2 linked regions of the Homo sapiens genome follow. The protein of the gene in region 2 interacts with the protein of the main gene of each other region in a pairwise test. Each region holds a gene or a part of one and is shown on either strand. Other genes may lie near its edges.

Region 1 (15,581 bases), on a different chromosome or scaffold from region 2:
GAAATTAAGTAGTAGTCTTTGTACACACTTTAAAAACCACCTACCAGTTCAGTTAAAATTGTAGGTCTATTAACACTGAAATTATGTCGCTTGTGTACTGCTATATCCAGTGCAGCTACACCACATTGTCGATTCAGAGCCAAGGGATTTTACAGATTTTAAAGTGCGTTTATTTGACACACCACAAAGTCATTTAATGAAAGTTAAGGAATAATGATCAAAACATTTATCTAGTTAATAAGTAATTTTCAGAAATTTGGAACAGTACGCAAGCCATACTATTTCTGAAGTTCTACAGAAGTTCAAACACAATGATTCCTTTCTTGTCATCCGTTTGTCCCTATTTATAATATTAAAGCATAACTCAAAAGTATATGGTTACTATCCCTTTAGTAACCCATAAAATGTTGGAAGGTGTTTAGATGTTCTTTAGATTTTTGAAAATTAAGTATTTTTTAGAATACACATGGGTAATGTCAACATTTTTGGAAATATGATGTGCAGACAGACCTTAATTTTACTTGTATGTGACCTAGGGATACCCTCTATATAATAGCATTTGCCTTGGAACTGCTGCTCCTTCAGCTGGGTGCTGAAGACCTTCACCTTCCTTCTTGGGCCATCCCTTACTTCCCATTTCAAGCCAGTAATATTAAGGAGGACATATAAGTGGCAACAGGAAAGGTAGGGGACAGTTTTGCCAATTTGCCCTCCTTCACCCCCTGCCCCACTTCAGACAGTTTCATTAGCAAGATCCCTGCTCACATTATAAGGCCCATTCTGTTCCTTACCCATGCACAGCTCAAGTTTCTGCAACAAACGCTGGCATACGTTCTGAAAAGTTTCCCATAAAACAGACACTTAACTTCAGTTGCTTTCTGAGTCTTGGTTGCCACTGCCCGACAGGAGTATTTATTCTCTGATCTCACCAGCAGGGTGCAGTAGGGAGAAAAGTTGCCCTATAATTTCTTGGAGTACAGAACACATACAGATACGGTTTGGTTCTGTACCACTGCTTACCTTTCAGGGCCCCTATGGTTTCAGTAAGCTTTGAGGGCACAAACTAAGAAGGCTAACACCAAGAGTATTGTTTGCATGGGTAAATATTACTAAAAGTCAACATACAAGTGAACTTTTAGAGCATATTTTTTATTTGGGAACTACCTGAAATACCCAGAAAACTATGCCACCACTTTAACAATCCAAGGACTTCAAATGTTTTCTAAAACTCTCTCTACCCAAGTAGACATGCAAACTTTGATCTGAATTTCCTGACATTTCCTTATTTTTCTGTTTTTGTTTTGTTTTTTTTTGAGACAGAGTCTTGCTCTGTCACCCAAGCTGGAGTGCAGAGGCGAGATCTCGGCTCACTGCAACCTCTGCCTCCTGGGTTCAAGCAATTCTCCTGCCTCAGCCTCCCTGAGTAGCTGGACACGTGCCACCATGCCCAGCTAAGTTTTGTATTTTTAGTAGAGACGGGGTTTCACCATGTTGGCCAGGCTGGTCTCATACTCCTGACATCGTGATCCACCCGCCTCGGCCTCCCAAAGTGCTGGGATTTACAGGGGTGAGCCACCACGACCGGCCTTCCTCATTTTTCTATAAATAATTTTAGATAGTAGGGTAAATGGAGTTCTTATTTCCAGGAATTTGAAAAGCTCATATTCTTTTGAGAAATGTTTTCCCAGGCAAATTTCTAATGCAGCTATTCCTCTACTTTTGAAATGTCCATCCCTCAGCTCAAAAGAAAGCACCCTGCAATTTAGATTCTTTTTTTAAAAAATTAAGTTTAAACTGGAAAGGGATAGTTTTAGCTTGTTCCACATGAAATCTTGCTGATAAGCAAATTCAACTACATTTCTATCCAAAAGAGTTCCTTTAAAAAGTCTGACTTACAGTCAGGCATGGTAGCTCATGCCTGTAATCCCAGCACTTTGGGAGGCCGATGCTGGCAGATCCCCTGAGGTCAGGAGTTCGAGACCAGCCTGGCCAACATGGTGAAACCCCATCTCTACTAAAAATTAAAAATTAGCCGGGCGTAATGGCGCACATCTGTAATCCCAGCTACTTGGGAGGCCAAGGCAGGAGAATTGCTTGAACCCAGAAGGTGGAGGTTTCAGTAAGCCGAGATCGTGCCACTGCACTCCAGCCTGGGTGACAGAACGAAACTCCGTCTCAAAAAAGAAAAAAAAAGTCTTATTTACAATAATTTCCTGTTTCCATTTCTTTATGCAAATCTCAAATAATAAACCTGCTCTTGGCAAGCTGCAGCTAATCTCCAGTTTATATTACTGTACATAGTTGTATATTTAAATTTTCTTAATATTGTGAACATTTAACATCTCAACCCTTCTGAAATGACTGATGGTGAAAGCTTCACAGAAAAGCTGGCCACGTCATGCTGTCGCCACTCAGTCCCACAACACCACACTCTCCTCCCTCCTCCTCCTGTTTCTGGCTAGACATTGCTTTCTGGACGTTTCTAAGGAAGCACAGGCCCAGCTTCTAATTCGACCAAAGGGTTTTAAAGTCTAAGTTCTAGCATTTTCTGAATGCTTCACAGTAGATGTTCCAGAAGAAATTAATGACTACAATAAGCATTCCAAATGATATTCTAAAATGAGGACTTTCTGGCTGGACACAGTGGCTCACGCCTGTAATCCCAGCACTTTGGGAGGCCGAGGCAGACAGATCACTTGAGGTCAGGAGTTGGAGACCAGCCTGGCCAACATGGTGAAACCCCGTCTCCACTAAAAATACAAAAATTAGCCGGGCATAGTGGTGCATGCCTGTAATCCCAGCTACTCAGGAGGCTGAGGCAGGAGAATCACTCGAACCCAGGAGGCAGAGGTTGCAGTGAGCCGAGATCATGCCACTGCACTGTAGCCTGGGCAATAGAGCAAGACTCCGTCTCAAAAATAAAAAATAAAATGAGTACTTTCTGTGCTCAAAACTACCAACTAAGCTAAACTATTTCATCAAAAGACCCCACTAATCAGGAAAACTGATACCAGAGATACCAAAATTGATCAGTGGAAAACAGTGGTTTATAACTCTACGTTTTGTGGAAGTGCACATTTTGATAATTCTTATTAAAAGACACTAAGATACATGAAGCATTGTGTAAGTTTGGCAGACATTAATATACTCATTTCAGAGGCAGTAAACCTATGAACCCTTAATGTTCTAGTTTGCTCTTGAAAATGATACTATTTCAAAGCTCAGTAATGTGGATAGATTTTTATTCAGAAATCCTTTCATATTCACTAACTGCAATTAAAAGTTTAAAATTACATGGCTCTTAGGAATGACGCCAAACATGCAACATTTTAAGAGTAATATTAAACAGTAATTTTGCCCTCAGAAGTTTACTTATCAAATTATTACAACAGGAACACAAATAGACCACATATTACTCTTTAATTAGATTTGTTTTACAATATGTTCTTGTCAACGAGCTATGTCAAACTGTTTGTTTAAACCTGACAGAAAAGCATTTTCACAAAAACGTACCATGGAGAGGGAGGGGGAGGGGAAGAAGCACTTTTTCTAGAGATGGAAAATAGTTCCAGTAAAAAGTTCTTATTCCTTTCTTCTAAGGAGCTCGTTCTGAATATTTTCACTTAGTTCTACTGTTCTTTAAACAGGACTTTAAAAAGAATTTTGTATTTACAAAATTTACATTTTGTTCCTACAAAATGTAATTTTTTAATTTTGTAAAATAAAAATGTAAAATTTTAATTTTGTTCCTACATGAGAAGTGTGCGTACTTTCAATTAGTTTTCATTAATATCTTCTGAGTTTTCCTCTTAGGTGGTTGGTTTCTGGGTAAGGCAGAGTTAGGCTGGTGCACACACTATTTAGGAAGTCCTGTCTCGTGGCTGACAACATACATGTAGTGCTCAAGGAAGTGAGTTAAGGAGTGACATGGGAATCAAAATGATGCCTAGAATAGTGTAATTTGGGAAACAGCCCTAGATTTGACATTTTGGAAGTTCACTGTAAGAAGAGACCCCAAAAAGAAGGAAAAGGGAAAGGGTTCCTCAGCTAAATATCCCACTCATCCATGCCTACTCAGCGGTCACTGTGACAAGGCCATCTTAATCGGGGCCAGAGATGACACTCTCCCCCTGTAACTCAGCCTGGCTCTGTCTATTGGGATGTGCCTAAATGGGATGGGTGAGGGGGCACTAAACAGCTAACACTGGCCAGGGAATTATTAAGGAGCTAAAATGCAAGTACCTCTTGAATACCACAGCAATCTCTGTGCACAAATTTGGACTGTACTTTTTGGGAGAAGAGGTGAAAACTATTATTAACTATTCCCTTCCTTCAACCAAAAGGAAAAATACGCCTCTTTAAGGCTTCTTTTAATGATACTATAATGCTGAATTTATTTATGAAAAAGAAACAATACAGGTTGAGGTGGGAAAAGCCCCAAGGAAACGGAGTAAGTCACTGGCGGTCACAGGACTTGAATTCCCTGGGGACAGTGCTGTGGGGTCCCCTGCTCGCCATCCCAGCACCTCAGTCTGAGTATAGATAATACTGCATTTTTGTAAAGACGAAGGCATCCTGCATTTACCATCACACTCCACCTACTCTTGTCCTAGTCATCTTACATACTCTTAGTCCTTAATCTCTCCCAAAACGCTTCTCAGCGCCCATTGTTATTGTGTCATCTACAAAGCAACACATATATTAAAACTCAGATTTGTTTTTAACAAAAAAGTGCTTAAAACCACCCTAGGCAATTGTTTTTCACTTCATTTTCAACCAATAAAATCAAATTCATTTAGATCTATGAATAATACTGAAAAAATAATGCTTATTCTCTTACATTTTAAATAATGTGCCTTCATCCTCAACTTTACATTAACTGACTCATTTCAGTATCTAAATGAATTGAGCTCTCATTTGAAAAACAGAAGGTACAACTATATAGAATTTTTAGGATAAAAAATGTTCTGGATAGAAAAATCCTTTTGATGTTTCAAAATAACACAGATTCTCAGTATAGTTTTCAGTTTGGCAACTAAACCATTATTAAGTACCCAAGGTTTTTAAAAAATAACAAAAGATAATAACATGATTTTTAAATACAAAGTTATATAGGAGCAACTCATATCTGTGGATCATCCTTACACAAAGTTGTTTCTCACTAGAAAAATCCCTAAATATTTGTCATAAAATAAAAACTCCATTATCAAAAATTAGTTTAAGATAGAAATCTATGCACTTTAATGATTGCCAGAATTGCCCAGCATAGCTTCAGTAAAATAGAGAATTGTCTAGAAAATACAATCTCCAAAATGTGTGCAAGTACTGCAAACCGGACAGACCGGGGCAGGGCAAGGCCCTTGAAACCAAGTCCTCCTTGAGCACCTTTCCCAGGTTAGAAACCCCTCTTCAGCCTGTGCTTCGCACGTTTCCTTCAGCGTGCCGCCATTCAGACTGCGCCACTTACGTCCCAGTGCCACGCTGCGTGGATCAAGTGTCAACGGGAAAGTATGAGTTAGGCAAGCGCTTTTTTTTTAAGCTGTAAACGCTTCACATGACTGGCCCCGTAAGAAATTGTGGGAGCTTAGATGAGCCTGGAGCTTTTCAGGAACTGGATGAGGACTCTGTACACAAATGTGTACTGGCAGAGAGTCTGCACCAGCATCATTCTCTGTTGCCTCAGCATGTCCAGCACTCTCGGGATGTCCAGCACCTAGGTTGAGAGAAACGGTAATGAAGATAATGTGTTCCCCTGGGGAGACAGAAAGGATGGGAGGACACGAGTGTCCTGGCAGAAACCTGGTTGGGAGATGGACAGTCTCTTTTCCACCTTAGCGTCTTCTAGAAATAAGCCATGATTGCCTACTTCTGATTTTCTGATTAGTTTTAGCTATAAATAGAATGTCCATGCAGACTATTTCTTCAACATTCCCCAGGTGTAGCTCACTGACTTTGTATGGTTGGACATAATTACCATGTCTCACTAAATACCAAAATTATACAAAAACATAGTGTGCTAAGTGCTATCAGTATCTAGCTATTTCCCTCAAGGGCTCTGGGCAGCATGAATCATCCTTGAAATGTAAACAGAAAAAGAATTCTGAGCTCAAATTTGAAAAACCCTGGGCAAGTAAAACAAAATTAAACAGCTTTATTTATCGTATGACTTCTTAGTCTTTAATATGCTAATTGGTACTGAGACTCTCCAAGAAGACACAGCCTTTTGCAGGGAACATTAGTAACATCTTGAGGCCACCACAGTCCAAGGAAATGTGCGCAAAAAGAGCTATTAAGTCACTATGTCCCTCTCTTCCCCAGCCTCATTTCCACCCAAAAAGGCCAGGTGATCATAAGCGCCATCACCTCATTGTGTTCCAGGCAGGCGATCATGATCTCCGACAAAATCACCACGCCAGTCCTTCCTACCCCAGCACTGCAGTGGACCAACAACGGAGGGTTGGGGCTTTGGGGATCACTTGTGCTATTTGTATGGCGTCGAACAGACTGGATCTCTTCAAGATATGCTGTGGAAAATCAATGAAATAGAAAAGTACTCAAGGATCAAGGCGTATCACATTGTTGACTCAATCTTCATATTCTCTCCACTGATTAAGAGGACTGCAGATAAAGAGCACTGGGTGCCAGTGAACCAAACCCAACCACAAAGGGACAGTGTGACCCTGAGCAAGTCACTACCTCTGTCCACTTTCTGATCTACAAAATGAAATGACGGAGATACTGAGTCAGCTGTGGCATTCTACTCACTACCAAATCATAATTTATAAACCTCGTTAACCCTCCCCAAAACACTTGTATTCTTTATGTTAAAACAAGTCCGAAGCTTATATGAGATAACATAAAGGAAATATTTCGGAAACATAAATGTTCCTCTCTGTTTAACACCTCCAGAGGCAGCTGTCCTCGGAACAAAGTTAAAGTCACTCACATAAAAATCCCTTGAGGTCTTCTGGACAGCCATGTTCAGGCCAGTCTGTGTATTGGAGGTGCCAGACGGTCCTCTCTTGCCCAGTAAGGAGGTGCTTCATCTTCAGGCCTGTGGTGGCATAGCAGCCAGAGTCTGTGCGGAACCGGGTCGTGATCTTAAACCTTCCATAGGTGACAGTGTTGTGCCTGGAACCAAGTCGTGGCCAGTACCTAAAGCTCTTCTCCCTTCCACCCTCCTGTTAAAGATGAGCATGGTTAAATGACTCGAGATCCGGCAATGGATGCCTTTCTCACATAGACGGCACATCTGAAACAGAACCACAACCCTACCCTGCCTTTTTCTCCACAGGTCAGGATTCCAGATGATTAACATTAACTGTTCTTCAGAGGCTGAGAAAATCACTTAAGAGAAATAAGTACCTACCTCTTCTGCTGTCACCATTGCTATAATTGCAATTCCCTGTTCCCATACCATCTGCCAAAAATCTTGACAGGTATTCTGTAATGGTCCCTGTGTGGCAATATAATCCCATTCGATTCCACTGACAGAGACCTGGGATTAGAAAAGGTTAAAAAAATTGATGTGTGGGTATAATATACATAGGTATGTATGCATGCATTCATGGTAGTACTAAAAAAGTTTTTTTAAAAAAGTAAAAAGTAAAAAAGTAGTAAACTGGATTATTCAGCAGAATAAGGAAAGACTTTTCATCTTTTCCCTTGTGAATACAATTTGCATTACTGACATTTTTATAAACTTAGGTACTGTGAATATACATAATATCTATGCAACCTGTTTAACCTTGCTGAATGTCAGTTCTCATTTATACAATAAAGATACTGCCTACCGTCATAGGGTCATTGTGAGGACTGAGTCAGTATCTATGGTACCTGGCACATAACTCAATAAGTAGCTGTTATTGCAGACATGGTGCCTCTTCTTTAAAAAAAACCTTCCTACTTAAGATAGTCTCACCTCTGAACTTCTGAGTCAAGGTCACTCTCCACAATAATATTAAGTTTCCACTTCAGATTTAACTTCCTTGAGAGCAGTCTAATACAACAGTAATTACTAGATTTGTGGTTAAGAGACCTGGGTTAAATCTTGGCTTCACCAATATTGAGTGACGACAATAACTGTCTCCAAACACTCACTAAACGTAAAACCCAGTGCCAAGCCTTGTGCCACACGCACTCTCACTCAGGGCTGCCAGCCCCCTAGTCACCGCTCCACATCGTCTCACTGAGCACCCAGTGGCTGCCACTGTGGATGAGTACCAGGTTATAACAGTGAATAAACACTAGGGAGGAGGAGGGGACTAGTGAGAAGCTGGCAGGGTAGGTGTCATCATTTATTTATTTCCATGTAAGTGAGATGAGGTCCCACAACACAGCTTATAAAGTGAGGTCCCACCTCATTTTAGATCTAGGCGTCAGACCCAGGTCTATCAAATTCTTTCCTCTATTCTGCAAGTGGCTGCTGAAGATTTTGAAATATCACTACAGAACTACAGTATCATTCATTCTTATCCATCTAGTCATGAGAGACTGGATGAGTTATTTCAAGGAAATGCTCGGTTTTTAAGTAAATTATGCTGATATTATATTTAAAAACAAAATAGTATGTGCATAGATTCCCAAAAGCCATCAAGGGGTACTGGCATTCACAGGCAGACTGCCAGTCTCCAGAAAGCCTTGGTGTCAGCTTGTTCCCTTCTCAAATAATACTTGCAAACTAAAGAAAAAAACCACCACCTGTCCACAGTTACTCATTCACTCACCATGAGATTTCTCCTTCCCAAAATAAAGAATTGAATGTGGCCAGCATGAACAAAGGGTACAATGAGGAAGAGGGAACATCTGGCTTTATTCCATCATGTGTTGTGAATCATCATTTTGTCCATTTTCATAGGAGTGATATTACCCCAGATAAGGTGCCAAGAACATACACTAGGGAAGGACAGCCTCTTAAATACATGGGACTGGGAAGACTGGATATCCATAAGCAGAAAAGTAAAACTGGACCCCCTATCTCTCACCATAAACATTACCCCAGTTTAATGGCATTATACTGGTTCCAGGAAAAAAGCACTTCTTCAAAGAAAAAAAATGATACTTAAAAATTATTATAAAGAGTATGTAAAGAGAACAGATGGCACCTTGGTAAGTTGAAAGCTTTTGTGAACACCATCAAAAAGCCCAGACACTTTTGTTACATAAAAATGCATGTCAGTATGTGATGAGGAAAAACTAGCAATTCAGTGGCTCCCAGAATTTATGAGCTAAAAAGAGGTCTTCAGATTTAGAAGGACAAAGTTCTAAAGCCAGGCAACACAAGGTCAAGGCTGTAGGGAGCCATGATCATACCACTGCACTCCACCTGTCTGGGCGACAGAGCAAGACTCTATCTCAAAAAAGGCAAAAGAAAAAAAAAAAAGCCGGGCAAATAAGTGCGCCCTGAGTCCTGGTAACAGTGTTGGGGGCAGAGTGGTTTCGCACATGGAGAGTAGACATGACTTTGGCTCTGTCTGATAGACGCTTTTTATCTAGCACTGGTATGTGGATTTCCCAGCTTGCAGTACAGTTTGTCACAAATGTTTAAAACTAGGGTGTTTATCTAAAACAATACAATAAAAATAAATTTTAAAATATCTGAATTCTAAACAGACATGAATACAATTCTTACCATTCTTGTAACTTAACTGAAACTGCATGTGCTGTTGATTACTTGAGGCGTTCCTCTCACCTTAATATGTGATGCGTTGATGTAACCAGTGTTGTTTTCTTTAGTTGGGACCAACTCCACTCTCACATCATCATAAGGAAGAACATCTTGGAATCGATTTCTTTCTGCATTTTCAGGGAGTCGTGCTGTTGAGCACTCCCCATCAACTAGCCGTTTCTTAAGAATTCTTTCATATTCTGTGAATACCATTCCTTGTTCTAATCGTTGTTCCAGAATTTTACACTATAAAACAGAATATGTGTAATAACATGAATACAGCCACACGTCGTGGCTACCTTTTGACTGTATATTTGAAATCTTGTTTTCTGCTTCAAATCTAGCACTGTATAATATTGAAAATTCTAGGTTGGGCACGGTGTCTCATGCCTGTAATCCCTGCACTTTGGGAGGCCAAGGAGGGAGGATCACTTGAGCCTAGGAGTTCAGGACCAGCCTGAGAAACACAGTGAGACCCCGTCTCTGCAAAAAATTAAAAAACGAGCCAGGTGTGGTGGTGCATGCCTGTGGTCCCATCTACTTGGGAGGATGAGGCAGGAGGATTGCTTGAGCCCAGGAGGTTGAGGCTGCAGTGAACCATGAGAACCTATCTCAAAAAAACCAAACCAAAACCAAAACAGAAACAAAATTCTAGGTGAAAATGAAGTTAAAATTTTAAAAAGCCACAACAACAAGAGTTAAAAGAACAAAAGACAATCATTTTGGTGAGAAATATAATGCAAACTTTTGTTTAAAGTTGAAAATTGGCCTAAAGAAATTTGTTGAATTCATTTTCTCTAGATCTGTGGTCAATTTTGTGACCCCTAATAGATGGAATTCTCCTGGGGAACAGTAAGTAAATCTAGGGGACGGATAATGAGTTCCAACAGCTATGAACAAATGTTTCCATTTTATGTCATACGATATATAAAAGACTAAAGCAGTAGGAAATATTCGAAACTACCTCCAGGATCCCGTTGTAAAGCAAATGTATGCCTATCTGATTTTGATGTAATAAAACCTCATAGAAAATACACCTCAGGCACAAAGGAAGTTTTGAAAAATTGAGAAACTACTCTCGAGATAAACTTTCAGTATAATAAAAGTCAATGTCTGCTGCTTTTCCCCTGTATGCTCCTGTATTTTTGTAGATTTCTTCTCACTTTAAGGCCATCAAAATCAAGACTGCTCCAAAAGGCCAGGAGAAGGTAAAAAAGAACACTGAGAAACAAACAAACAAAAAATCAGCATTCGAACCTGAAATTATCTATTAAGACATTAGCTATACATTTGCCCCAATTTTGAGGCCCATATTACAAAATTCCTTAACACTCATTTATTATTAAATTGTGTTAGAAAATTCACCAAAATCTCATGAAGGCATTTGCGTAGTATTTACCGGTTGTTCCAGAGAAGGCACAAAGCCCTGTGTGTCCCATACATACCCTTTCATCATTCGTTGCTCTGGTAGCCACTTCCTTTCCTTCATCAGGCAGAGGCACTCGAGATAGGGAGAGTCCATTTAGGGCAGCCAGTTTAAGAGGACCAATTTTTTTTGCATCTACTCGAGTCTTTTTCATTCCCTGTAAAAGGATTTATATGTATATATGAAATATACACAAATACAACCCCTGTGAAAAGAAGTTTCAATGCACTGAAGACCAGGAACACACAGAGGGAGTGTTCTCCTTTGCCAATAAACCCAGAAAGATTACACTCCTTCACACACCACTTGTTTAACAAACATTAGTAGGAAGACATTCCTTTCAAGGCCAAAGCCCTGATAAAGTCTTCCAGATAGAAGGTTTTGAAACACTATTGGTTACAAAGTTCTGTTGTAATGAAAGGTGAGGCTCCAGGCAGACTGCATTCCTTTTAAAACAAGACAGACGTAACAAATCAGCTGAAGTCCAAAAAAAAAAAAAAAAAAAAAAAACAAAAGCTTTAAATGCAATCAATTGACTATAGTAAGCTTTTATAAATTTTTTTTTTGAGGGTCTCACTCTGTCACCCAGGCTGGATGGAATGCAGGGGCACCATCATAGCTCACTGCAGCCTCAACCTCCAGTCTCAAGCAATCCCACCTGAACCTCCCGAGTACCTGGGACTACCAGCACATGCCACCATGCCCAACTAATCTTTGTGTGTTTTGTAGAGATGGGGTCTCACTATGTTGCCCAGGCTGGTCTCAAACAACTGAACTTAAGCAGTGTTGGCCTCCCAAAGTGCTTGAGATTACAGGCGTGTGCCACCATGCCCGGACAGCTTTTTATAATTTTTAAAATATATAAATTCTTTAAGTCATTCTGAAAAATTAAATGGTTTCTGCAGCAGCCCCCTTTGTGTGTTAAGCCCCCTCCTCATATGCTACTCTGCATTCTAGTGCAGACTTAGATGACCCGGGTTAGATCACGCTACCTCTCAGAACGGCTACGTTTTTAAACAAGGAAAATAAAACAGGGCTAAAATCTCCATCATGACACCAGGAGGATAGGACAGAAGAGAAAGCATCAACAAAATCTTGTCTCCTGAAATCAAGTGTTTCCTAAAATTATTATTAGAGCATGATTTTCCTCTCTGAGAATAGTAAGCATAAGAACACTAAGTTGACCAGGTGCGGGGGATCACGCCTGTAATCCTAGCACTTTGGGAGGCCGAGGTCAGGAGATTGAGACCATCCTGGCCAATATGGTGAAACCCCGTCTCTACTAAAAATACAAAAATTAGCTGGGCGTGGTGGCACATGCCTGTAATCCCAGCTACTCGGGAGGCTGAGGCAGGAGAAAGGCTTGAACCTGGGAGGTGGAGATTACAGTGAGCTGAGATCGTGCCACTGCACTCCAGCCTGGAGGCAGAGTGAGACTCCGTCTCCAAAAAAAAAAAGAACACTAAGTTTCGTTGGATATACTACACTTCCTTGGATGATATCAATATAATGAGTAGCCCCAACTGGAAAATAATGGTTCTGCCCTGTAAACAAAATCCGTGTTATTCCAGCTCTCTCAGCCTGTAACAGGCCATGAAGCCCCATGATAATGGTGCAAGAACAGAGGGAAAAGGCAACTTGGTGAGAGAGGAAAAAAATCCTAAAAGATTGCTGCTGTAATTGGAGACTGTGATTGGTACCTAACTCAATAAGCTAAGTGGATTAATTTTTAATTTTATAATTAATATTTGATCATGAGCTCCCCACATAATGCAGTCTAGACTATAAACAGCAGAGGCCTGGGTTCACATCTGGCCTCTAACTGACCAACTTCTTTCAGGCAAGTCACCTTTCCTCTGTAAGCCTCACCTAGACAGAAAGAGACAGATATATCCAGACACAGGCATACAGACTAAACACTTCCTGCTTAGGCTGAAATTTAATGATTCTAACGTGCAGAAAACAGTGATGTGCTGGTAATATTTAACAACAGGCTCTTGGAAGGAAGTTTTGATCGGTGTTTGCCCATATCCATGGTGTAAATACTCCCATCACAGCCAATTTCAAACTGTTAATGTCACATCAATTGGCTCACAAGGTTCCTGAACATTTAAGTCGGCTCTTGCTAGTCAATATGAACTAGCTCTGGCACTTCTCTGCCTGAAAATGACTCAAAATATCCCACACTGGGACACGCTGGATAAAGCTGATTGGCTGTGAGGTCAGTTCAAAAGCCAGTATTGGAAGAATGTTGTATGTAGTCAAAACTAGCCTTGAATATGCCTTAATTAGCCCTTAGAATATAAGCACAGGATTTTAATGCATACCCTGCACAGTGATTTCTTATGTGAGAACCACTGCACTAAAGGGTACAACAAAAAGAAAATCTTTATGTAGATATATGAGCACCCAAACCAGTCTGCCTTTAAGATAACAATCAGGTTGCTGGAGGTGGAGATGGGTGGAGAATTCTAAAATCATTCCTACTTGTCTACAGTTTATTTCACTGTTTTTAATACTAAACCTCCATAACCTTAATTCACATTAGGAAATTTGTTGTAACGATTAAGATAATGGCAACCCCATGTTACTATGAAAGGTCAGAGGGTACAATAGGGAATTGGCCTCTTCCACTCTTGAAAGCCATTAAGTTAAATATATGATGCCACCTCACAGTAATGTTAATATTGACTAATCTCTTTCAATGTGCCAGAACCTCATTTTTATCCCCCCAACAACTCTCTGGGGTCCTCTCATTTACAAATGTAAAAACTGAGTCACAGATTAAATAGCTTGTCTGAGGTCACATGGCTGCCTCTTTTACAAGGTAATCAGTGTCAAAACAAATAAAAGCAAATCTTTGGTTAAAATCAGTTACACTGAATCATGTAATTCAGGAGGCATTTTTTCATGCCTAACTGCATGTGGGACATAATGCCACGAAGCAGGCAGCGAAGGGATGACCGTCCTCATGATCTGAGGTTATCTGATGTGGAAGCTGAGGTTCTGACGCATGAAGGGTCCTGACCGTGGTCACAGAGAACTAACAAATGGCAGGCTCTAGACTCAGCCCCAACGTTCTTAACTTGTAGGACCTTTGCTCTTTCCTCGTGACCACAGCTGCCATACCCATTCCTTAAGTAGAATCCTTTAAGCAAAAAGGACCAAAAACATAATCCAATCACATAATTTTACTAGTATTGTGGTCTTAAAAGTCAATGGGAGAGAAAAGTTCTTTTAAGAGAACCAAATTGATCAAAGTCCTCAGATTTAACTGAACCTACCAGACCCCATTCAAAACATACAGGGATAAAATAGGCCTGAGTACTGAGCTGTACTCAGATAGCATTTGGGGAAAGTACGTGAGTCACACATAAAAACAGACCGTTCTTAATGCAATGGGAAGGGTGTTAACTATAAAAGGACCCTGTCCAGCTGGCTCAGGGATTCAGGTAGAGTTACTTTGGAAAATCTACCCACACCTTATCCTGAATCACTGCTCCCTACACTCTTAAATCTGTGTCCACTGAAGGCATTGGCCTTTACTGTTCAGGGATGTGAGTTATGTTGCATACTTGTGAAAAATTTAAAAATCAACTTAAAATTCAAACCCAAAACTTATTAAAAGAAAGCAAATTTAGGCCAGGTGTGGTGGCTCACACCTGTAATCCCAGCACTTTGGGAGGCTGAGGCAGCCAGATCACAAGGCAGGGGAATCGCTTGAACCCAGGAGGCAGAGGTTGCAGTGAACTGAGATCACACCACTGCACTCCAGCCTGGGCAACAGGGCAAGACTGTTCTAAAAAAAAAAAAAAAAAAAAAAAAGCAAATTTAAATCTGTGGTACTTTTTTTGTTAAGTAGTTTTTGTCTATGTACATTAATCTCTTTCATAAGTACTATAATAGTGTGCGTTTTTTCCTGTTTAGCAAGATGTTTGCAGCATCTTAAAGGATGTCATACACTAGGCCAGAACCACACTTGAGATGAGCCGTCCTGTCGGAGTTTGCAGTTTAGCAGCGATGGGGGGAGGAGAACCCTAGTTGCCAGGACACTGGAAGCCAACAGGAGATAGGATGGAGGCCCTAATCAAGTTAGCCTGGCTCAAGTGCAGGGCATGAGGAGTGGAGATGTGGGCCAGGAAGAGCTGGAAGCCTGAGCACTGCAACAAAATCACTTCGGTGGACACACTTCATGACAAGGCCGCAGATGCTTAGTCCCAGGTTAAGGACTGAGTTTAAAAGTTTCAGTGAAAGACTAGCAAGGCTTCAACAAGCAATTATGACTTAATAGAACATATACAGTATACTTCAATGCAGAACATACATCTACAGTGTAGATGATAACAGAATGGGCTTCTAAGTATGGGTTTAAAATTCCAGTTCAGTCACTCACTAGTCATGTGACCTTGGAAAAGTTAGTTAATATCTAAGTCTGTTTCTTCATCTGTAAAACAGGCATAACAATAGGCTTACTGTAAATAGGCCACA
Region 2 (15,385 bases):
TCTGTTATCTTGGGACCTTAAATACCTTTACCAAGCTCCCAAGTTCTAGTTATATAGGTTCTTTTTAATTTTTATTACTATGAAATATATTATAATACACAATTTTACCTGCATCTACTTCCTTACCAAAGACAAAAGAAAACATAAAATAAAAAACAAGAGGAATAGTGTGTCAAATAATTTAAACTTTTAAAAGTTTTGACAACTTTCTTTTTTTTAATGGTGACAGAGTATCACTCTGTCACCAAGCCTGGAGTGCAGTAACGCGATCTCGGCTTACTGCAAACTCCACCTCTCAGGTTCAAGTGATTCTCTTGCCTCAGCCTCCCAAGAAGTTGAGATTACAGGAGTGTGCCACCACACCCAGCTATTTTTTTGTATTTTAGTAGAGATGGGGTTTTCCCATGTTGGCCAGGGTGGTCTCAAACTCCTGGCCTCAAGTGATTCACCTGCCTTGGCCTCCCAAAGTGCTGGTGTTATAGGCATGAGCCACCGTGCCTGGCAGACATTTTGATAAGTATTTTTAAACTTCTCTGTAGGAAGCTTGTATTATGTAACCCTCCCACCACAAGTAATGAAAGAGATTGTCCTTCTCACTGCATCCTTGCCAGTATTAAGTTTATTTTTTGTATTTTTTACTTTTTTAATACATAAAACACACCACCTCATTGTTATTTTAATTTGCATTTCTGTGATTAATAGTAATAACATTTATTAAACGTGTGCATTGGTCTTTTATTTTTTCCTTTTGAATTATGCATTCAGATATTTGGACAATTCTATTGGGGTGCTATTGTTTACTCACTGATTTGCAAGAGTTCCTCAGGGCTATCATGAACTGTCATGTCATGTTTGGTGTCAATATTGTTTTCCATGATTCTGTTCTGTTTAAAATGCATGCATTGCTGCATATGAGAGTTTAAAATATATTCAAATCTTTATTTTGCTTTGTGATTCTTCCCATTGATTTTATATTTAAAAAGTACTTCCCCTAAAATTAGTTAAATATTTTATTCTAGCTTTGTTTTCCACCTTGCATATAAACTTATCAATTTATGTGGAATTTCATTTGGAGGGTCATGTAAACAGAGGTTCTTAGTTGAATGCTTTCTATACACTTAGCCAATTTCCATGACGTTTTGTCAAATACTCCTCACTGTTTCATAATGCCTTCTTCGTCATATTTCTGGTTCTAAGAATGACCTAAATCTGTTTCCAGGCTCTTCTATTCCACTGAGCTATTAATCAATTCTTACACCAGTACTACATTGCTATAATGATTGTAGCCAATGATCAAATTTACTTTTGTTTCAACAATGGCGCCCATTACCACTACCACTTCCATCTACCTACCTTCACCCCCCAACCACCCACATCTACCACCCACCACCCCCATCCATACCACCTCATCCCACCACCTTCATGTATTCGTCTCCACCATCAAACTTCCCCCCACCTTTACCACCCCTAGAACTCCACTCTCCACACCACCTGTATGTACCACCACCTCCCATCTTACCACCACCACTCACCTCCCCCACCACCACTACTATTCTTTTGAAAAGTTTTCTTTTATTTTTATATGGTGATTCTTCCAGATGGATGTTAGAATCATTTTGTAAGGTTCTCCCAAATCCCAATGTAATAAAACTATATAATTGATCTGGGAAAAATAACCGTTTCATAATATTCATCTTTCTACCAAAGCATAAGGTATGTCTTTCTTTGTTTGCTCCTCAGTTTATTGGTTTGAGTAAAATTGTATAGCTTTCCACAAAGACTTTTATATATTTCTTATTATTCACGAGTATTTTATGTATGTTTCCTGTTTTTCCCACTCAATTTATATATTAGTGAATTCATGAATAGAATCATTTTCCATTCTACTTTTTAGTTAGTAAAACACTGGCATTTTGGGTGGCCATCAATTTTTGAACATGTATTTTATAACCAAAAACATTACTGAAATTTTGTACTAGTTCCTTTAGGCTTTAATTGATCCCATTGTGTATCCATCACTTTTAAACAAAATCAAGGCACACTGTCTAATTTTTGGTTACTTACATTAAAAACTTTACTTAAACATAGGCATTAAATGCTATTTTACTGTTTATTTTTAAAAATCACCCTTTTATGAGACTAATATAAAAATCTGAAATTGAAGCCACTTTAGAAATCTAAAACATAACATGTGTTCCTCTGTTGAACTACATTCATTTCCCTTGGGCACTCAGTCTTACTATTCAAAACTACAAAAAGGGCTCTGAATGAGAGACATTAAGTCACTTCTCACTTGGATTAAACAGGACAAATTTAGACAATTAAACGAAATAAAACAATTCAGGATTTTGACAGAAACACACCAGGAACTTGTCGCCTTATAAAGAGCAATTTCTCTCCTAATTTACCTCCAGAGATAATGTCCAGGATGATTTTTAAAATAAAACAGTGCCCACCTAGATATGGTGAGAAAGCAATTGCATGCTCTTCTATATATGTGCAGATACCTTTTTCCCCAGATAAGCACACATTTCCTATTTCAACAGATCAGAATAATAATACCAACAAATTATTAATTCACAAAATATTTGTTGTGCTCCTAGTAAGTGTGGGGTTCTGTGTTATTGGGAAAGATTAGAGGGTTATAGTGATGATTATGGACAGGAATTGAAGAGACACTGGCATATAACAGAAGCTCAACAAATAATTAAATGTATTATTTATTTATTATTATACATAATGATTATTATTTATTGTTTACCATTAATTTCCAGAAGACTGAAAGTCTAGCTCACCATTGTCTTCCAAGGGTGTAGCATGGCAAATATACACATGCAATAAATATTTGCAGAATATTTATTGACTGATTGATGTATTTTTACAAAAACCTCAGTTGCCAAAAAAATATTTTGACTCAATTCTTAACTTCTAGCCTAAATCAGTTCTTAAAAGATGCATTTGTTAAAGCCAAGAATACTCTCCTTTTGAAGTCAGAATAAGGTTCTAAATTGCTCTTTCTATACTAGAAAAGAAAAACCTTCTAAAAATCAGATCTTGAAGTTGGCACAGGAAAATGCTATGAGGCAGAGTATTCGTTCCTTCACTCATTCACCAAAAGTTCATTGAGCACCTTCTGCATATAAGACATAAAATAAATGGCCATTATAGAGCTTACAGACATAGCCAAACAAACAGGCATTTGCAAACTGGAATAAGTGCTGTGGAATAAAAGTGAAAGGATGATGAGAGAGTTGGGTCGGTGGGGAAGAGAGATCAAGGAAGCCCAAGGGATGAGTATGACCCAGACTGGTAAAATATAGAGGGAAGATGGTTGGGGATGTTCCAGAAACAGACAGAGGGTCAGTGTGACAGCATCAAGAGGAAGAGATGCACAAGATGAGGCTGGCCAAGTATCAGAGGCTCTAGGAGTCTCTGGAATCTGTCCCAGGTGTGTGGGTGGTATTTTATGTAGGGAACTGACATTATCCTCTCTGCTCTGGATGAAGGATTAGAAGAGCCAGGCAAGGAACCAGGGGTCTTGTTAGGAAGTTATTCTAGTGGTCCAGGTAAGAGATTATCATCTCTTGCAGTTTGATAGTGGTGGTGGTGGGGATAGAAATAATTTATCAAGATGTATTTAGAGATCTATAGAGAAAATAGCATTTATAAGACTGCATGATGGTTTTAAATGTGGAGGGTCAAGGGAAAGGAGGTGTCAAAGGTGATTCTTGGGTTTCTGGTTAAAGCAACTCGATGGATAGTGGTGCCATTTACCAGGTTAAGAAGGACTAGAAAGTTGTTAGCTTGCCTTTGTTGCTATTATTGTTTTTGTTATTTAATGCATTTTGGTTTTTTTGCATTTGTTTGGAAGGTTAGCAAGAAGGATGGAAGGCAACATCAACAAATCAACTGGGGGCACAGTATGTTTGAGATACTCTAGAAGATCCAGGTCCTGGGTTGTCTTGGCTCCCAGGTAAGTGACATGCATAAATGAGGTACTTTTGAACCCTGCTCTTCCCTACCATGGTTGTGTATATAAAGCCTCAAATAGGTTAGTTCCCTTAAATAATCTTTAAAGTATTTTCTGAATCCATGCTACTCTATCTTTACCTCTTATGCTAACATAATGTTAATGTTGTCATCAAACACAGTTCATAGGGATGTTGGTGTACTGGGCTGAAGAGTGTCTCCCAAGAATTCATGCCCATCCAGAACCTGTGAATATGACGTTTAGAAATCAGGCATTTGCAAATGTAACCTGGTTAATTTGAGGTCATATTGAATAAGGAACAGGTCCTAAATCCAATATGAATGATGTCCGTATAAGAAAAGGGAAATTTGGACACAGGGACAGAGACAGAGAGGAAGATGCCATGTGAATACAGAGGCAGAGATTGGAGTTATGCTGCCACAAACCAGGGAATGCCTGGGGCTACCAGAAGCTGGAAAAGGCAAGCAAGGATCCTCCCTTAGAGGTTTTGGAGGGTGCATGGCCCTGACAACATCTTGATTTTGGACCTCTAGCCTCCAGAACCATGAGAGAATAAATTTCTGTGGTTTTAAGCCACCCAGTTTTTGGTAACTTGTTATAACTGCCCTAGGAAACTAATATAGTTGGGAAATTTAAGGGAATTAACATGTTTGAGCCTGAATCATTATATAGGGCACATAGCATAGGTTCAGTAAATATCCATTTCCCTCTTACTCATAACAGTCACCACCATTTTCCTGGTGGTTTAAATTATGATTAATCCGTACATCTACTCATCTAGATAAGTCTTACTATTCCGAGGACTGTTCTATAAGTGAGGAAACTGAGGCTTAGGAAAGTTAAATAATTTTCCCAGAATCACAAAGCTAAACATAGAAGAGTCAGAGTTCAAACACCTGCCTCCCATACCTACAGCATTTCAGCAGGTCCTGACAGAGTGGAGAGGCACTGCCAGACTAGATTTTCAATGCTTAGATATCAATTGATTCAATGCTTAGATATCAATTTTCAATTAAACTCACATTTATTAATAAAATAACAAGCTGCAGAGACCTAGTACAATCTCTACCCACTCACAGAAGAACACTAGGTTTTTAGTCTAAGGCCAGCGTTACCAAGGAACTTGCCATTGGCTTATATTGCTTCCATTTAGCAGTGCATCTGCCTTGCACATATGTATTCCAAGTCAAGGTATTATCAGATTGGACATTTATGGCTTTAATTTACTTAAATGCATTTTCCTTATGTATTCCCCCACTTCATTTTGATGATACTGACTCATTCTCGCCACCTAACAAGACTATAAAAATAAATAGTGTGAGTGCAGAGGAAACTGTCTCCAAACTTCATATGCTAAGATGCCCATCCTTTAAATTATAAAGCAAAAAATAAACCCATGCTTTAAATTTACCTTTCTCCCTAACTAACCTGGTTATCTTTCTCCCCAAGATTGAGTTGTTGTGCTGTTGAATATAACAGATACACAAATCTAAGGTGGCACAGCTGTTATTATAAGGTGTCAATTTCATAGAATTCTAGTGTAGGAGGGACTTCTAAAAAGCATCTTGTCCATCTATATCAGGTAAGAGAAAGAGTGTCTACAGCCTCCAAGCCCCAGAAGAGAAGCGGTTGCACTAGAAGATTTTTGTGAGTTACCTAAGACCCTGTGGCTATGTCTTGGTAGAACTCCGTAGAATGCCAGGTTTCCTGATTTTCCTAAAAGTGTGTTCAGTCTTTCAAGCTGTCATCAACTATTAACAATGACACTTTCCTCTGGCTTTGTGCCAACTTTTCTTTTTGTTTATTATTCTGGCCATAAAAAGACCACCATAAATAGCCTCAGCGTTTCAGGTTCCCTTAATTGATATCTAATGTTGACAAATTAACTCAGCCCGAGTTGAAAGCTCCATATACACACACATGGTTTCAAGAAGGGCGATCGCGCTTATCCTCCAAACTGAGCAGTGATGATCCCTGGACTTCTCAAGTTTACCCTCTAGGAGGCTGACATGGCACACAATTTTGACAAGAGTTTGGAACCAAGATCCTCTTCCACGCCCTGCTCACAAGGGTGCCCACAAGCAGAAGTTCTCTCTCTGTCTCTCCATTACAACCCACCAGGCGCGCGCGCACACACACACGCGCGCACACACACACACACACAAATAACAAAGGAAAACACAGCCTCATAAAGGCTCAGCTATTGCATCCTCCAGTCCACACCTGCCAAAAGACAAAAACCATGCGGGAATCCTGCTCTGGCAATATGTCCAACACTTCTCGGGAAAAGCAGCGCCGTGGCACCCCCAGGGCGTGCGCTGCTGTATACACACAAAGAACTGGTGCTGGGCTTGCGAGCAGTTCGGGGTACCAGCACGCTCTCAGGGCTGGAATCCGGGGTTCTCCTCCACGCCCTCCCGCCCAGCAAAATGGAACCATCCTTTATTTGGTTGGTAGAGAGCCCAGGCTGGATAGTAGCGCATGGGTTGAGGGTGGGCGGTCCCCTATCCCTACCCTCCAGGCAGCAGGTCCCTAGCCTTTGCATCTCCTAGGAGATGCAGGATCGCGCTGTCACAGTGGTCCTCTTCGCATCCTCTCCCGGCAAAGAGAGATGCTCCGGTTACCAGCGGCGCGCATCCCCGCAGGCGCCTCTCCTCTCGCCGATACCCACCCAGGCAGTCCCGACAGGCGCGCCTGCCTACCTGGTGGCCGGCTGTCAGCGAAGCGGCGGTGCCTCAGCCCCTTCTCAGCTGCTACAGCGCTCCCAGCGCCATGTTCCCGGTCTCCCCGGGCGCACGCTGGGGAACTACTACTGGCTGGGTAGGGGCAAGGGGGGCGGGGGCCAGCGGGAGGGGGTGAGAGGCAGAGCCACAGCTTTCTACTCTCCACCCAAACCTCCCCCAGCTACTGAGCATGCCCAGCTGCCCGGCTTCGCCCCTCGGAGGACTGTCCATGAGCGTACGCAGCTGCTCCGGGTTTTCGTGGCAGCCGGCGGGAGGCAGGCTGTAGCGGCGGCCGGGGGTGGAGGTGAGGGGGAGGGTCGGGGGGCGTGTCTACACTCAGGGTGCAGGAGCCAGGAGCCGGGAGCTGGAGCAGGCGACCAATCCAATCACGTTTACTCCCAGTCGTCCCCGGCGGGGGCAGCTCCTGCACGCCCTCTCCCCCAACACTCGGGATTTGCAGAAATGTTGTTCAGGACCATTGCAGGATTGAGTTTTGCTTAAGAGGCTAGCAGAGGTGGGGAGGAGGAGGGGCTGAGAAGCAGAACAGTGGGCTGGCCTCTTTGCCACCACCTGGACCGGTGATTCTCAAACTTTCATGTGCCTGTGAATTAAAATGCAGATTCAGATTCAATTGGCTGGGTCCTGAGATTCTGCAAGCCTAACAACCTCGCAGGTGATGCTGCTGCTGCTGGCCCTCCCACCACTCCGAGTAGCAAACATCTAGAGAACCCCTTATCTGTGACCTCTCAGTGGCCATCCTTCAATCCGCCAGCCTAGCAATGGTCTCTGGTGTCCACAGAGACTCCTCCAGCCTGGGGTTGCTGAGCCTTACCTGGAAGGAGTGTTTGTGGGGCTAGGCTGTGACCACCCAGCTTCTCCTTGGCTGCTGTCTGATTTCGAATTTAAGGCCCAGGGGAAGAAGGATTCCTGGACCTTTTCATGCTCACTTTGCTAGCTGGCTAGTAAGCCAGTTGCTGGATGAGCTGCCCCGGTCAAGTCTGAACCAGTCTGCCTTGGCTGTCCCCTTGCCTTTCCTGAGCTGGGACAAAAACTCAGACTGGGCATCAAAGTGTTTATTGTACATCTAATAGCAAGCTTGGGCTTGCCTAGTTAAGAAAGCCGACAGATTATGACAAACATAGAGCGCATTTTTGTACCAAGAGATGTCAGGCCTTTGTGTTCAGTGATGTTTGGGCTGAAGTTTGCAACGATATTTGTGGTTCAACTTAAACTTCCCAGTTGCCTACTGCCCTCCCAGACTCTTGAAGTCTCCAGCATTATCAAGACTCTAGTGAATGAAAGACATTCACGAAGTAGTCCTGAGTTTTCACCCTTGGAAATGAAGAAGCCACGCTCTTGTCTGTCTTCAGCTGCCACAAGAGTACCCTTATGAGCTAGTAGTGGATATGGAATCTGATCCCATAACTAGATAGCAGGTTACAAAATAAGGATTTGTATCTCTCCGTTCCTTATTATACTCAATGACCTTAGACAGTTTTCTAGCTAATAGTATAGTAGTTATCATTTCCCCTTGCTTGTTTTCCATTCACTTAGTACCTTTAATATTGTACTGGCCATATCAAAACAGAAACCACAGGATAAATGGATGATTACTTTTCTCCCTCAGTAGTCCCATGTCCTTGTGTATCATACTCATCTCTTCCTTCTCAAAGCTGCACACAGCCCTAACAACCTACCCACTGCCACCATCGTCACCCCCACAACTATATGCATAAATATTTTCTACTTTTGACTTTCTTATATGTGTGCTCACATAGATGCAAAAGCCAGAACATATTTTTACTGAGATATCGTTTATTTGTCATTGGTTAGTATCAGTTAAAATTTTTATTTGAAATATTGAACTTTAATCACTTAAAATAGCCTTCCTGTTATACATAAAGTTTGTGTTTGTACATTTGTTTCTGCTAGTTAAATATGATGATGATTGTTAGCTGCCTCAAATTTATTTTGGAAGCGTGCAAGGTAAAAATTATAGATGAATAATAATGCTATTTCTGTAAATACTGCATTGCATGAATTCCTAAGGGTTTTCTTTATATGTAATGCCATTTCTTGAGGGTTTAGCCTGCAGTATTTGACTAAGGACCAACATCTGTGGGTGGGAGGGATACAGGAAGCAGGAGCAGGCAGAGGTAGAAGCTAAGCTGTGATGCAAGCCAATTGCAGCCTTTGTCAGCCCCTTATGGAGCTCACTAGCTAGGGTGATCCTTCAGAATGACCATGAGTTGGTCTGAGATAGTCAGTCCTTTACATCCACATCAATCATTGAGCATGGGCTGTTCCTAGGAGGGGCACGAACTTAAGACAGGCAGCTCTGGCAATTCTTACAGGTAACAACAGCTAAAGGCCTCTGTCAGCTGTAGTCCCTGTGGCTGCAGTAACAAATCCTTCACTTAAGGGGAATTTAGGCAAAACATTCCTTTGTCCACCACATTGATGTATTTATTGAATACAGCACTTTTGAACACACAAAGTAGAACTCTACTGATTTGTCAGACAGATTTTAAAACTTTATTTTTGAATAAGTAATAGACTTTCTCTCTGGCTCAAAGATTTAAAAGTTGGAAAATAACCTGTAATCAGCCATTGAGAGTATACTATCTATTTAGGTATCTGGCTGTATGCATTTTTTATATGACTAGTTTAATTATGATTTATTGAGCAGGCATGTATTTATTGTCTACCATTTAAGACATAATTTTCTCTGTCAAAATCTGTATTTGTAATTTGTAATGGGGTAGGAATAAGTGTTTGATAGTAAATAGAAGTGTGTTTTTCAATAAAACAGAGCTACTGACTAGTCAAGATTTCATGAGAAACTAATGTCAACCAACCTTGTTGACACCAAAAACTGTGACAAGATGAACCTGAGGGGTGGAGAACTTGGTAGATTGGCTGACAGGGATGTGTAAGACAGCATGCTGGAACCCAGGTTCAGACTACCCAGCTCATTCTCTTTACCTTCTCCAGGCTATGCATCTACAAATGGCTGGAATTCTTGAAAGATGAACCGCAACCATAAGGGAACCAGCATAGATTCTAGAAATGAAGCAGGACATTTGCTCAGATAGTGGAGGTAGGGAAAGAATAGGAGGTGGAAAAGAATGTTCCAAGGAACATAAACAAAAGCATATAAAGAATAGGTCTCTAAAGAATTCCCCCAAGGAAACAGAAAAAAAAGTTCGGACAAATATTTTTTCCCGAGTTTCAATGGAATGAAAGGCAATATAATCTGAATAATGTTTTTTAAAAGCACCATAAAGAAATATAAGGATTTAAAGACAGACAATAAGACTAAAATGAAAGATAAACTAGCAGAGTTCAGGGAAAAATAAAAGCCATTAAACCACTCAAAAGGTAAGAGACTAAGGGCCAGGCGTGGTGGCTCACGCCTATAATCTCAGCACTTTGGGAGGCCAAGGTGGGCGGATCACTGAGGTCAGGAGTTCAAGACCAGCTTGGCCAACATGGTGAAACCCATTTCTACTACAAATACAAAAAAATTAGCCGGGCGTGGTGGTGGGCGCCTGTAATCCCAGCTACTCAGAAGGCTGAGGCAGAAGAATCACTTGAACCCGGGAGGCAAAGGTTGCAGCCGAGATTGCACCACTGCACTCCAGCCTGGGCGCAACAGAGGGAGACTCCGTCTTACAAAAAAAAAAAAAAAAAAAAGAAAGAAAGAAGGAAAGAAAGAAAGAGAGAATAGGAAAAAAAAACAGACTAACCACTGAAAACACAGTGATAAATAGACAAGTACTTAGCTACTAACAAATAAGTATAAAACAAATCATAGACCATTTTTATGAAATACAAACAAAGGAGATCCAACACATGTACAACCAGTAACATGCAGGAGCTGGCTTGCACCAGCTTGCAAGAGCTGATTGGGCATACGTACTGCTTCCTAACTCCATTTTCAGTAACAGCTTGAAATCAGCCACTGTGGAAGTATTTACCCCACACAAATGGACAAATGCTACAAATCAGGGTTTTGTTTGTTTGTTTGTTTTCAGACAACTGGTTATTACATATCTACCAGAATACCACTTTTTACAACCTTTGCTGTTAAAAAAAAAAAGAATAAAATGGAAGAGAAAAAAATAATCAAAGATGTAATAGAAACACAAAAGTTAGTTTCCTGAAATAGAGAGTGTTAGATCAGCAGAACAAAAGAACACAATTGTCTCAGGGGAAAAAAAAGAATCAACCTGGAACAATTAACCCTAAAATATATCCTACTGAAGTTACAGAACTTCAAAGACAAATAATGTTCTGAATATCCAGACAGAAAAGGCAATTTACATATAAGAAAAAGAAAGTCAGTGTGCATTTAGATTTCTTCACTCTCATCAAGCAATGCCTGAGGGTGTTCTGAGGGAAAGAAAGGGTGACCTAAGAATGTTTATTTTCCTACACTGGTGTTCTTCAGATTTTCAAGGCAACAGTCAATTGTTCTCAAATGCAATAAATCAGTATACACAGCAGAAAAAAACCTTTATAATATTCTACTTCATTATCAAATTTATACAACTAAGAGATAAATTTAAAACATAAATCTCATGAACGATGAAGCTGTGGTCAAATGTGATAATGATAATCATATTTATTTTAAAATAAATCTAAGACTAAACCACTGGTGTTTGGCAGTTTTAAATCAGAACATAAATATAAACCTTGACAATGTCAGTATCATTGGATAACTTACTAAAATCTGAAGGTAGAAAGAAGGGAGTTGTAAGGAGGTTTAAGTATAATGATTTCCTCAGCAAGTGGTCAATGTATATTATTAAAGTTGCCGCAGATAGATAGAAAACCCCACCTCTGATCTCATCATGCTTTTTTCTTACCTTTAAGGGAATATGTTTCAAACTTATCTCTCTATATGAAAAAAAACCGTTTTCTGAAGTTGAGAGATTACTGCAGGCACATTTTAGCTTCTTTTCTTATTTAATTTTAATAAGATTAAATACAATTTAGTTTTAAAGTAGCTTCTGTGCTATCATCCACATATGGATGATACTTGAAAAAGTATATCTGTCAACTTATCCTACTTGTTATAACCTTATATTTTTATCTCTTTCTATACAGGAAGATTTATGGAATATTATAAACCAAGGGATTTTTTTGATGAAAAGATTTTGGGTTGATTGTTTACTTCTCTGTATTCCTTAAAATTGCTTGAAATTTTAGACAATAAATGCATGTGTTTTAAAAAGAAGCCATTATTCTCTTCAAAATATCCCAAAATATTATTCTCTTTTAAACATATTAAAATTTTACAGAAAGCTGGGTGCAGGGATACACACCTATAGTCCCATCTACCCAGGAGACTGAGGTGGGAGGATCACTTAAACCCATGAGTTCAGTGCCAGCCTGAAAAACAAAGACCTTGTTCCTAAAAATAATTTTTTAATTAAAAAAAAGCCTTACAGAGTATGAAAATGGAATGAAAACAGATAACTAAAATAAGTCTGGATTAAAATTATTCGTTTAGACAAAAATGAAGAGAAGACACAAATCACCAGCATTGGGAATAAAATAGGTACTGAAACTGCAGATCTCGAAGTCATTAAAAGGATAATTTAAGTAAATATTTGGAAAAACTTTGTGTTCATAAATTCAACCACTTACAGTAAATAAACAATTTCTGAAAACCACACACTAACAAAAACTCAAGTAAGATGAAATACGTAAGCTGAATAGTCCTGGAACCACTGATGAAAATGGAATACATAACTTAAAAAGCTCCCCAAAATGAAATATCCAGAGACTTAAACTTGAAAAATAACCTGTAATCAGCAATTGAGAGTATGTTATCTATTTAGGTATCTGGCTATAAACTTTTTTTAATATGAAGTGTTTAATTATAATTTAGTGAGAGTGTTTTACTGGAGAAGTCTACTGGAAGAAGAATTAATGTCATTTTTTCACAATTTTCTTAAGAAAACAGAAGAGAACACTTCCCAAATCATTTGATGAAACAACTCTTACCCTGATAACAAAACCAAACAAATTCAGTAGGAAAGAAAACAAAACTATAAACAAATATTTTCTGCTTCCCAGCTTCAAGCGATTCTCTTGCTTCAGCCTCCCGAGTAGCTGGGATTACAGACATGTGCTACCACTTAGATGCAAAAATCCTGAAAAAAAAGATACCAAACTGAGTCTTACAATGTATAAAAGTAATTATACTTTGTCAAGTGGTGCTTCTCTCCAGAATGGAGGGCAGATTTAATATGGAAAAATAATGTAATTCACCATAATAAAAAATGAAAAAGAAAAAAGTAATATGATCACATCAATTGATGCAGAAAAAAATTTGACAAAACCCAACACATGTTTATGAATAAAAACTTTCAGCAAGTTAGGACTAGAGGGGAATTACCTCAACTTGATAAAAAGCAACTACAAAAAACCTCTGACTAACATCAAACTTACAGGTGAAAAGATTGAATGCTTTCCCCCTAAGAGGCAGAACAAGGCAAGCCTGACTATTCTTACCAATCTTACTCAATATAGTAATGGAAATTCTAGCTGAATTCTAGCTCACTGAAATGAGGCAAGAAAAATAACTGTCTCTATTTGCAGATGACATGATTGTCTAGGAATCAAATGCCAAAGAATCTAACAAATAACTCTTAGAAATAATAAATGAGTTCTGCAAATTTGCAGCATACAAGATCAACACACACGCAAAATTTTATTCTGTGTACTAATCATGAACATACAGAAAATAAAATTTAAAACACAATGCCGTTTACAATTGCTCCAAAGAAAATGAAATACTTAGGTTTAAACTTAACAAAATATATACAGTATCTGTATGCTGACAATGACGATTACAAAATACAAATGAAATAAGTCAAAGTAGACCTAAGTAAATGGAGAGGCATACTATATTCATAGATTAGAAGACTCAGCATAGCAAAGGTATCAATTTTCCCTAAATTGATCTATATAATCACTGAAATTTCTATAAAATAGTCAGTATATTTTTTATAGATATAGACAAGTTTATTCTAAAATTTATATGGAAAGGTATGGGTCTAGAATAGCTAAACAATTTGTTCAAGAAGAATAAGGTGGGAGGAATTGCCCTATCCAAACATTAAGATTTACTCTATAGCTGCAGTAATCATGACAGCATAGTATTAGCAGAGTGCTAGACACATAGATCAATGGAATTGAATAGAGAACCCAGAAATAGACCAATATAAATATGAACAACCAATTTTTGACAAAAGTGAAAAAACAATTTCTTGGAGTAAGATAGATTTTCAGCAAATGGTGCTACAACAATTGAACATATATAGGCAAAAACACACACACACAAGAAAAAAACAAACAAAAAACATAACTTCCTCACAGCTAAAATCAATGGTGAAAGACTGAAAGCTTTTCCTCTAAGATCAGGACAAAGACAAAAATGCCCACGTTTACCACTGCTATTCTATATAGTATTGGAAGTGCTAGCCAGAGAAATCAGACAAAAATAAAAATAAAAATAAAAAAGAAGAAACATCCAAATTTGAAAATAAGAATCAAAATTACCTTTGTTTGCAGATGACATGATCTCTGTAGAAAACCCTAACAAGTCCATACACACACACACACATACACACCTGTTAGAACTAATATTAAATTCAACCCGATTGCAGGATACAATATAAACACACAAAAATCAGTTGCATTTCTATATAGTAGCACTGAACAATCTCAAAAGGAAATTAGGAAAACAATTTTATTTACAATGGCATTAAAAAGAATACAATGCTTAGAAATTAACTTCACCAAAGAGGTGAAAGACTTGTACACTGAAAATAACAAAACACTTTTTTTTTTCTTTTTTTTTTTTGAGACCAGAGTCTCCCTCTATTGCCTAGGCTGGAGTGCAGTGGCACCGTCTCTACTCACTGCAACTTCCGCCTCCCAAGTTCAAGCAATTCTCTTGCTTCAGCCTCCCAAGTAGCTGGGATTACAGGCGTGTGCTACCACACCCTGCTAATCTGTGTGTGTGTGTGTGTGTGTGTGTGTGTGTGTGTGTGTGTGTTTTAGTAGAGACGGGGTTTCACCATGTTGGCCAGACTGGTATGGAACTCCTGTCCTCAGGTGATCCACCCGCCTCGGCCTCCCAAAGTGCTAGGATTACAGGCGTGAGCCACCATGCCTGGCTCAAAATACTTCTTAACAAATTAAAGCAGACTGATACGGTTTGGATTTGTGTTCCCACCCAAATCTCATGTCGAATTAAAATCCCCGGTGTTAGAGGAGGGGCCTGGTAGGAGGTGACTGGATTATGGGAGTGGATTTCCCTCTTGTTCTTCTCATGATAGTGAGTGAAATCTGTTTTTTTGTTTTGTTTTGTTTTTGTTTTTTATAAGTGTGTAGCACCTCCCCATTCACTCCGTTCCTTCTGCTCTGGTCGTGTAAGATGTGCCTCCTTCCTCTTTGCCTTCCACCATGATTGTAAGTTTCCTGAGGCCTCCCCAGCCATGCTTCCTATACAGCCTGTGGAATTATGAGCCAATTAAACCTCTTTTTTAAATAAATTACCCAGTCTCAGGTAATTATTTATAGCACTGCAAGAATGGACTAATACACAGACATAAATAAATAGAAAGACATCCCATGTTCATAGATTGGAAGA

Evidence for each region.
Region 1: the proteins of PAK5 (region 2) and PTPN21 interact in binary tests that used the Homo sapiens proteins (3 or more experiments, as listed by UniProt).

Annotation. Positions count from the first base shown.
Region 1 is NC_000014.9:88,462,553-88,478,133, forward strand, and holds the end of PTPN21 (tyrosine-protein phosphatase non-receptor type 21), read right to left. Parts: intron 11,251-15,581; coding exon 11,113-11,250; intron 9,914-11,112; coding exon 9,692-9,913; intron 7,799-9,691; exon of another isoform or gene 7,499-7,798; coding exon 7,370-7,498; exon of another isoform or gene 7,316-7,369; coding exon of another isoform or gene 7,295-7,315; intron 7,182-7,294; coding exon 6,947-7,181; intron 6,525-6,946; coding exon 6,364-6,524; intron 5,714-6,363; coding exon 5,585-5,713; 3' UTR 3,226-5,584; downstream 1-3,225.
Region 2 is NC_000020.11:9,832,069-9,847,453, forward strand, and holds the start of PAK5 (serine/threonine-protein kinase PAK 5), read right to left. Parts: upstream 7,009-15,385; 5' UTR 6,694-7,008; intron 1-6,693.